Regions from separate parts of the Homo sapiens genome. Here region 1 is linked to region 2. Evidence: fine-mapped expression QTL. A gene starts in region 2. The other region holds a variant in brackets. All regions are shown on one strand. Distances are from middle to middle. Region 1 overlaps SCML4 (Scm polycomb group protein like 4). Region 2 holds the start of SCML4 (Scm polycomb group protein like 4).

Region 1 (5,385 bases), 36 kb before region 2:
ACATCTGTACATGATATGGCAGGAGGACAGTTCTGAAGCAACTAGTATCTCACGGATAATGACCTAAGAGCCCAGGATGCTCAGAAAAAAAGAGAGGTCCTACGAGGCTGAGGTTTTCCAGGGCCACAAAACAGCCAAGGGAGGGGCAGAGCCTGGCGCATACCCTGCCTGACAGCTCCTCCGCACCTCACCCTCACTAGCTCCTTGCAGCCTAGTACTCCAAGGGGGCCTTGGGGTGCTCCCATTTTGCTACCAACCCTAGAGGACATCTAGGACAGCTAGGCTGAAGGCTCCCCTGTGTGCAGCCCTGCAGTCCCACTTTCCCTACTCCTAGCTCATTCCAGAAGGCTTTCATTATTATTTCCAAGTCTAAGAAAGTCTTCTGGAATAATGAAACTGACCTGCTTCTAATCTGAATCAAAGCTACAATGAGAACTCAAGTGAGTTGGATCGCAGCAGGTCTCAGAAGCTTCTAATCTGGGGCCCCCACTCATGGTTTTGTCTAAGGTTGGAGTCAAAGAAGAGGCATTACTTGTTCTTTGCTCAGCAAGAGGGAGCTTATCCTCTCTCCCACCAGTGTCAGTTTCTGCCTGAAATGTGAGTGGTTTCCCCTGGCTAGATGAAAAGGAGCCACCTACAAAAATTTGTGTTTCTCAAGGAAGTGGCTTTCCAGAGGCTCCTCCCCCACAGTCTTGCCTGAAAATTGCTACTTGGACAGAATCTTTCTATTCTACATCCTTTCTTGTGGCTGTAATTGACCCATTTCTATCACAGCACCTACAACATGTTATTCTGTTTATTGGCATCCCTGTCTCTCTGTTCTAATATGCTTGAGCTCCTTGGAGAAGGCTCTGTGTCTTCTTCCATCTATCCCCACCTGGTTCAGTGTCTGGCACATCTTAAGGATTGACAAATATTTATTAAATAAATGATGTATGAACAAATGAATGGACGATCAGTGTCCCAGCCCTCTTCCAGGACTCCTCCTATTCCTTAGCACTGAGGCAGCAGAGTCCAGCCCAGGGTACTTGTCTTTTGTTTTTAGTAGTGGCCACCAGGCTCAGAAATTTACCTGCAGAGGACTCAGCAACCACTTTCCAACAACAAGGCCACTGCAATAAGACGCAGAGCATCCCATGCTGCCAAGATGGCTCTTCGCCTACTTCATCTCTTTTAATTTTCACAATGGTTTTGAGATAAGCATTACTGTCCTCGGATTTCCAGATGAGGAGCTAAGGCCCAGAGAGGCTACATGAGATCACCCATTAGTGGGCAGAGGGTAGATTCCACCCCAGAGCTCTCTGCATAACTCCCTACAGCTGTCTCCCTGTGTCGGCCCTGGACAGAATTCAGAGAGCTGGCAACAGAGCTGGCTGGGGGACAGGAGAGAAATCTGATCCTTCAGGCCACATCTCCATGTCTCTATAGGATATAAAGAAATGGGACTGATACAACATGAAAGCTTGGATGGTATAAAGTAACCCAGTCAACTCTCTGGGCATGAAATAACCGGGTGAATAGAACAACATAATTATTTATTGCCTACAGAGCTGATCCGAATTTTTTTTTGAAGATTGCTAAAGAGTGGTTGCAGGCAGCAGTAAGACAGCAATTGCTGCGAGACACTTGTCTCTGCTAAGGAGGCAGCAGCTGCGACTGTCACTCAGCCTCGGCACTCACATCCCACAGTGTAAGGAAAGACACCTTAGAATGCAGCTACACACACACATATATATATATTTTTGCAAACCACTATTTCCTGTTTTGTTCTCTATTTATACTTTACATTTAGTTTTGAGAAAGCGCTGGTGGTTTGGTGTTTGGGTTGTTTCTAGTTCAATCTTTATCTATAAAGCAAATTCTCTTTTCAAGATGATTTTTTGTAATATAAACCAACAGTATAGCTAGATTCCTTTCACATACTTTGCTAATAAAAATTCTTACAACTTCAACAATAAAGCAACAAGATTCAAATAACACAAATCACAACTCTCCAAGTCGGCACCTTGCCAAGTAGGAATCCATTCACCAGTCTTGCGGGGGTGGGGTTGTGAATTCTTCAAGGAATTCCAACAGACATTTTCACACAGATTTTCAGGCATATAGATGCTCATCCTGAAGTACAGAAATGTGTAACTATGATACCTTCATATGATACTCTTTGGAAAACACTGAAGTATCTAAAACACTTTGTTACTGCTATGTAATGACACATAGCAACCCAATGTTTGCCCTCCAAGAACTGTCTAAGAAAGATACCACCTCGGACCCAGGGAACAATCAGCAGAAAATAAACATGAAAACAGCACCAGGACCAATGCCTTCACCTCTTGTGCAGGTCAAGGAAAGATGCATTTAGAGGTAAAAGGCAAGAGCAAGTGCACAGTTATCGTGAAATTGATTTTGTTTCTCCACATTTGGTAGCTGAAAGCTTTGCTTCCCCAATAGACAAGGACCATGTTTCTGCAAGGACCAGGAAAGCTGGCTTTGCATTGCAGTGGGCAGTAAGCAGAATAGCAGAGTGACTCTTGGGTATCAGTGTCCTGCCCTGTCAAACGGAGACTTCAGTACTTGCCAGAGCCATGTCACCAGGCTGCCATAAGGATCCCATGAGAAAATGACCATGAGATCCTGTCATAATTGGTAAACCCTGTGTGATACAAATTACTATTCTTCCTGGGTAATTATTTTCTTTTGTTCTCTTTGTAGAGAACAGAGAGTCAATAGAAACTCTATTTCCAACCATCTTGTTTGCAGTGTCCCTAAAGGCAACATAAAGACAGATCATTTCTTTTTATTTGCCAAGCAAAAGAAATACACCCATCCAGACAATGCGACATTCCTCATCTTTTTCTACAGAGCATCACGTTAGTCTTGTCTCCCATCTAGATGATGCCCATCTCATGGGGGTGAAGCTGCTACCAACACCCTGGTATTAGGGAGGGTTTTAGAGCTCTCTAGAAAGCTGTGAGCCAGGGAGGAAGGCTAGGGTACTGGTGGTGCCTGACACTGTCGCCATCATTGTATGTACAGTCACTACACACCGGTTTATTCTCCCCTCTTATTTCACAAAGAAAAAGCCCAGGGTCTTCAAATACTAGGAAAGTAAAATGTCACCAGGTCTGAGAACAGAATGGGTGAAAGAGTGGGGGCTGGAGCAAGGAGCATAGGAAAACTCTCCCCCA[G/T]TGTGTGTTTCCCTGACTTACAGGAAAGAAGACAAAATGCAGCCTAATTTGCTTCTGGTCACCAAGTATCACAAAGGCTTCTCAGCTGTCCTGATAGGCACAGTCCCAGCGTTGCTCCACCAGGGACACTGTGGGCAGGTCACTACTTCTCTGGCCCATGTCCCTCAGTGGCCACTCTTACACAGCCTGTTGGTTCCGCAGGCTTCACAAGTACTGCAAGACCAAGGTCAAAAGCGAATTCTTAACCCTCAAAGGGAAGTACTGGCCAGAAGTGGACTATTCTCTTTCTCTCCTCAATCATCCCTTCAATCATTTGACAATATTTTCTGGGGACCTAGAGTGGCCAGACACTAAGCAGAGCACAGGGACGTGAAGATGAACCCAGAAAGATCCCTTCCTTGGATGTTTGTGGGTAGACGGGAGGGAAGCGGAGCACCTCTGGTCATCACATCTCCTCTGAGTCCCAGCCCATCCTGCCTCCCCACTGCCCCGCATAAACACAGGTCCCTTTCCAGGCGGGTTCCTCTGGCATGTTGTGGTGTGCAGACAGCGCACGGCTGAATTCCCTATGTCCTGCGTCGTTGACACACAGCTTCTCCATCGCAGTCTCCCAGAATCGAGGAGCCTAGGATACATGGGCAGGTCACACAGGAAGAAACAGCCACCACACACACTTAGTCCAGACAAAGACAGTGGCCAATAATCACAAACACAGAATCTCTGGAGACCAGGCCTGCCGGCCCACAGCAAAACCACCAGATTCATCTCTGAGTCGTCCCTGAACAAGTCCTCCTTCCCTCAGAGCACCACACCTGTGGAAGGGAGGATTCCCAGCCTTGGTGGCCTCTCCCCTCACACTCATGTCCCCCGGGCTGTGGGCACTGATCCTGACACACACCACTGCACACAGGGCCCAGCTCACAGGACCAGCAAAGCAACAAATAGTGGGTGAATAAATGAATTAATAAAACGTACATACATGCATATATTATTTTATTAAATTCTCACTACAAGACTTTAAGGCAAATATTATTACGTACTCCCACCGTATAGATGGAGAGTCTGTCAAATCTATACAGATGACAGCTCAGGAAGGCTCCAGATCTTGTGAAAAGTGGCACAAGTCCAGTCTAGTCCAGCCTTTCAGCACTGGCACCTGGTCAACGAGAGGTTAGCTGCTGAGAGATCCAAGAAGTTTCATCTCCCAGCGCTTCTGTTTCTAGCTGGAGGTGGGTGGGAGATGTTGCATTTTACCAGCTGACTTCTCAAGATCAAAAAGCCAGGAAGCTTTGCAATCACCCTGAGACAAGTCAACAGTAGTATTACCATGGACAATATCTTGCCTGGTGAAAATCTATGTGACCTCTTGGGGCTTTGCATACAGTGAATCCTCCGCCAATATGGTTTGATTGACTCATAGAAAGAAAGGGGGAGAGAGAGCAATACAATGATACAATTGAGGACTTCCACTTCTTAGTTGCAAAAAGAAAGGTCAGAAAAGGAAAAATAACAACACTTTTTTCCTGCTTTCTCTCCCTCGGGGGTTAGCCAGCAAACAGGGGCTTACCGGATTATTTTCTAGGTCTTCTCCCCTTCGCAAAGGTCTCCTGGGGCCATGCAACAGCCGTTAAGTCAATTCTTAATTAGCTTTCACAGTTTACCTTTTGAAAATCCATATCTGTATGAATATTTATTGGACGCTTACTAAATGCAAGGCATTTGTCCCAGGCCCTGAAGATACAAAGGGATGTCAAACAAGCGTGCAAACAGAAAGGCACACACAGCATCAGGAATGGCCAGACGAGGACAACCATCCACACCTACTGCAGGAACCAACAAGTCCCACAAAGGTCAAAGCACCAAACAGGCCAGGCATGGTGGCTCATGTCTGTAATCCCAGCACTTTGGAAGGCTAAGGCGGACGGATCACGGGAGGTCAGGAGTTCGAGACCAGACTGGCCAACATGGTGAAACCCTGTATCTACTAAAAATACAAAAATTAGCCAGACATGGTGGTGCATGCCTGTAGTCCCAGCTACTCAGGAGGCTGAGGCAGGAGAATTGCTTGAACCCAGGAGGCGGAGGTTGCAGTGAGTGGACATTGCACCATTGCACTCCAGCCTGGTCAGCAGAGCAAGACTCCGTCTAAAAAAAAAAAAAAAAGCACTGAACAAGCCCAGGGTCACTAAAAATAGAGGCA
Region 2 (5,385 bases):
ACATAAACAGCAGAGATGATTTTCTCATCATTTCAAATTTTAAAAATTAAAAAAGTCTATCTTTGTACTTTGGGGTAGTGCTTGAATTTTTTAATAGGAAAGTGTTACTGAGTATTTTTTTAAAGTCAATATTGTTTTGAACTCTCATTATAAAAGTTCTTGCAGCAAGTGACAGTATTTGGGTCTGGCTTGTTTTCTGTGGGCTGAGCTGCTTAGCTTACCTGCTGCTTGCTAGAGGAGACAGCCTTTCACCCTCACCCCCAGGAGTCAAGAACCAGAAAGTGAAACTGCTTCTGCTGATTTCCCTCGCCTCGAAAACACACCACCAAAAGCAAAGAAATGATGAAAAGCAACTTACTCGTTTCGCTTATTGTTTTCTTGTCTTTCTATTACCGTTCATTTACTCTTTTCTTTTTTTCTTTTCTTTTTTTTTTTTTGCAGCAAAATAAAAGTAATTTTGGGGACACAGGGAAGAAATGTAAACATGTTATACATGAAAGAACTGGATTTTTGTGGGCTTTGCACTTTTGTTATAATTCCACAAATGAAGCAAACTGATGAATTTACCAAAATATTTCAGAGCTCATCTACGTACACAATTTAAAGAGCTAAAGAAAACACATTCATATTTTTTAAAAATTCTGTCAAAAAGCCTGTTTAAAAGTTATAGTTTGTGAAGCCACCAATTTCCCTAAAACTGAAGATTCTACATTAACCTTTTGAGTTTAGACGATCACGCAGTACCGATTTTCTAGGTAATCTTCACCCAGCTGCTGTTGCTCAAACAGCCCCTCATTTTATCAGACTAGTTCTACCAAGCAACACAAAAAATGCTCCACACAAATATTATACCCCCCAGATAGTTTAACACACTAAGAATTCCTTTGTAGTTATTTTTATGCTTTCACTCCAGATATTCTATTTTGCTTTAAAAAAAAAAAAGTGGAGAAAAAAAGCAGCTATATCCCTCATTCTTCAAAAATGGTTCCTCTGGTTGAAAAGAAAGAAAAACAGCATATAACAAATACCCTGATTCTGAAGTGCCTGGATTACTTTCTCAAGTACTGTAGTGTCTGAGATCAGTAAAAAACCACTTTCTCAGAAAGCCACTGATTGTCTAACCCTCATGAGTACCGTCATGGAATCTAGAGACAACACGAGGAGACACCTCTCGTTCACGATCACAGATAGTGGAAAGAACTTTGACTCAAGCACCTCAACTCAGCAAAACAGCTCAGCAGCCTGCACCCTGGCCTCATCCACCGCTCCTGTCCAGCCAGCAATCAACCTGGAGAGGACCCCTCATGCTTTGGGAGGAGCACGTGGAAGCTGGTTCAAGTCACAGTGCTCCACCTGGGAAGGAGGTGATTTTGAGCTTGGGAAAACTGCCGCTAATACTCCATAGTCACCAGTTTTTTTCCCAAAAAACGAATTAAAACCAGAAACTAGCAGTAAATATTATTCTTATTTATGCCTCATAAATTAGGAAAAACCAGCACAAAGACATGTGAAATATTCTACCTGGGATATTTGAAATAAAATTAAATGGGAAAAAAAACACTTTTACATGTTCATAACATACCAATTTTAATAACCAAATTTTAGGTAAATATTTTTATCCCAAGACATAGTACAATTTTTTTAAAATTAAAAAGCAAAACAAAGCAAAATTATCGTGAAGGGAAAAAATAACTAACCGGTTACTTGAGTTCACATTTGGAAAAAAATAACTTTCTAGGTATTTAAATGCAGAGTTAAAGAGTAATGAACATGTATATAGCCCAAATTTATAAACTATATAATTCAATGTTACATTTTCCCCTCTGAGATCTGGTTAATAAATTAAATGCTGTACTTTGCATATGAGGAACTAAAGTTTACCTACTGGACTCAGTGGTTTTAGTGCAGGACACTCTTGTGCGTTGCCATAGAGGTAGGCATGCAACCCAGAAAAAACTGAAACAGGTAACCTGTCATGCTGACAGTTACAAGAGAAAGATCCCGTGTCAACGGCACGCCTCCAATTGTGCATCTCCCTTACCTACAGCTTGTTCACCAGAGCCCTGAGCAGGTTGTTTACCAGGTCGGGAGTGTTGACTCAGAAGACAGATGACTTTCAGCACATGCAAACCGAGTATTGCAAAAGCTATCTTCCACCCGTGTTAGTAGCTCACAGTTAGTCTCCAGCAGCCCTGCGCTCCAGCTGCAAACATCTCATTAGACTAATGCATTCAGCACAGGCAGAAAACTCGATTTACCATAGCTACAGCAATGAATTTCCATTACGATGACAGCTTCAACCACATCATGTCCGGAAAACCAGCCAACCACTGGCTTTTAAAGAACACACACATTTTACATGCAGAAAACGAGGCCTCTGTGTGTGTGTGTGTGTGTGTGTGTGTGTGTGTGTGTGTGTGTGTGTGTGTGTGTTTTGTGTTTCCTTCCTCTTAGCAGCCTAAGAGAAATGTGCAGTGTAGCTTTTTGTCGACATGAGCTGCAAGGTAATGACACTTCTGCTTCTTTGGTAGTTACATCCTTGTAATAACCTGAATTATGTCACAATGGTTAGAATGGGTGTTTCCAACATTTCAGTTTTCATTACCCCTCCTCTGTTGCCATAGAAACCAGACTGTAACATCGTCTCTTTGTCCCAATCCTGCAGCAGTGTGGGCCAACACCAGGCTTATAAGACACTGGTGATCTGACAGAGTGAATGTTTGACTTTGGACAAATAAAACAAAAAGAAATATTACAATAGCATCATTGTTCAGGAGACCCTGTGTGATTCCCAGAGCAGTGTGCCTATCCAGGTGTGTGCACACACCATGGTTGTACATATTAAATCAGCGGCTGCCCACAACATATGTGTACAGTTCATTAAAGCCGGCCCTGACTTTGGCTCCAGGCCTGTATGTGTGTGTGTGTAAGCATCTCTACCCACCTCAACGTGGTGGGACCTGCACAGGATAGAAACAGGGCAAGAGTGACTATTCATTCCCATGCCCCATTGCATTTTCTGCAGCAAATCAATATATATCGGCGAAGGGATCTTTTCTTTTCCTTTCTTTTTGTAAAGTGGAGCAGGGCTCCCCATTGCCCATTTCATCCACTCTGGGATATTGGCATATTCACAGGTATTTCCTACAAGATGAAACATCCATTCTACAAACATGTGGCTTACTCCTAGGGATGAGCAGCAAACAAATTTAGCCGGGACTAAATATCAACCAGGGCTAACGAAGGCTTAGGCCACAACCTGGCCAGTTACTGAGAGTGAAAAAAACTGCAATGGACAACTTGAGGTTTCTCTAAATATATGTGTAGAGTCACATTAGAAGTACATAAGAAATCTCTCCTCTGAAATTTATTATGAAAATATAAAAAATTGTTTTAAGTCAAAGCCTTGTAATTAATTGAGCAAGAAGAAATTCACTACTTTAGTTCATTTAATCATCAAATTTTGTTGTTTTGTATGGGAAAAGGCAGGTTTGGTAGTTTGCATTTTCATTTCATATAAGTTGATTTCACTAAAGAAGGAGGAAGAGGAGAAGAAAAGAAAATAAGATGGATGGGCCAGGTGCAGTGGCTCATGCCTGTAATCCCAGCACTTTGGGAGGCCAAGGCGGGTGGATCACGAGGTCAGGAGATCGAGACCATCCTGTGAATGGTGAAACCCCGTCTCTACTAAAAATACAAAAAATTAGCTGGGCGTGGTGGCGGGCGCCTGTAGTCCCAGCTACTTGGGAGGCTGAGGAGGGAGAATGGCGTGAACCCGGGAGGCGGAGCTCACAGTGAGCCGATACCGTGCCACTGCACTCCAGCCTGGGTGACAGAGCGAGACTCCATCTCAAAAAAAAAAAAAAAAAAAAGAAAATAAGATGGATGGGCTAGGTGTGGTGGCTCATGCCTGTAATCCCAGCATTTTGGGACTCCTGGACTTGAGGTTAGGAGTTCGAGACCAGACTGGCCAACATGGTGAAACCCCATCTCTACTAAAAATACAAAAATTAGCCAGGCTTGGTGGCGCTTGCCTGTAATCCCAGCTACTCGGGAGGCTGAGGCAGGAGAATCGCTTGAACCTGGGAGGGAGAGGTTGCAGTGAGCTGAGATCACGCCATTGCACTCCAGCTTGGGTGACAAGAGTGAAATTCCATCTCAAAAAAAAAGAAAAAAGAAAGAAAAAGAAAAGAAGAAAAGAAAAGAAAAGAAAGAAAAGAAAAAGAAGAAAAGAAAAGGAAAGAAAAGGAAAGAAGATGGATGATTTAAGTTTGGACAGCATCTCTGTCCCAGCGACAGCGGTTATTATACTCACACCCGTGGCCTCACACATGCCACACTACACTGAGCTTAAAGCACCTGGAATGGGCTGAGACATTAGACCAATTTTCACTCTAAAATGTTTCTTAGGATTAAAAAAAATAACATTTCTTAAGTAATCAGAAATAATCTCCAAGTCCTGTAAAAGAAGTAAAAGGGTTGGCAGAATCTACCCATAAGAAAGGAGTTGCTGGTTTTCCTACCCAGCTCTGTGAGGGTTTCTCACTCTGATCCTCAGGCCCAACCTCCTTGCCTCCTCCCAGATGGGCTACTGTTGTCCTTGTCCTCAAGGTGGGTGCATGTGGGAAGCACCCATTGTCATCTAACAGGTCAACTTGGTAATAAAGCCTAAAATTGAAATCAACAAAAGCTGGATTGCTTGGGCGCGGTGGCTCACGCCTGTAATCCCAGCACTTTGGGAGGCTGAGGTGGGCAGATCACAAGGTCAGGAGATCGAGACCATCCTGGCTAACACGGTGAAACCCCGTCTCTACTAAAAATACAAAAAATTAGCTGGGAGTGGTGGCAGGCGCCTGTAGTCCCAGCTACTTGGGAGGCTGAGGCAGGAGAATGGTGTGAACCCGGGAGGCGGAGCTTGCAGTGAGCCGAGATCACGCCACTGCACTACAGCCTGGGCGACAGAGCGAGACTCCGTCTCAAAAAATATATATATTTTTTATATATATGTATATATTTAAGTAAACAATATTTATTTACTTAAATATGTTATTCAAAATATTTGATATTTAATAAATTATTCATTAAATTATGTAATTTAATAAATTTAATAAATATGTAAATATATTTATTTAAATATATCTTTATATTTTTATTTAAATATATTTACATTTTTATTTAAATATATATTTACATTTTTATTTAAATATATATTTGTTTTTTACTTAAATGTATATTTTTATTTAAATATATCTTTATATTTTTTACTTAAATTTTTTTATTTAAATATATCTGTATATACACACATTTATTAAAATATATATATTTAAACTTACTGGGATTTCTTTCTTCATGCAACCAGGAACATAGCTTTTAATAACTTAAATC

Evidence for each region. PIP is the estimated chance that this variant, and not a neighbour inherited with it, causes the effect.
Region 1: its variant is the best candidate, but not a certain one, in a credible set for the expression of SCML4 in whole blood (TOPMed, PIP 0.51).

Annotation. Positions count from the first base shown.
Region 1 is chr6:107,785,737-107,791,121 of GRCh38, forward strand. All of the region lies in intron 1 of SCML4 (Scm polycomb group protein like 4), which reads right to left. Among named protein-coding and RNA genes, the nearest start is that of SCML4, 36 kb to the right of the region's middle. The variant G/T (reference allele first, on the strand shown) is at 3,186.
Region 2 is chr6:107,822,085-107,827,469 of GRCh38, forward strand. It overlaps SCML4 (Scm polycomb group protein like 4), which reads right to left and starts at 2,229. Exons shown (of 8, transcript NM_198081.5): 1 at 2,042-2,229. RefSeq lists an enhancer at 312-381.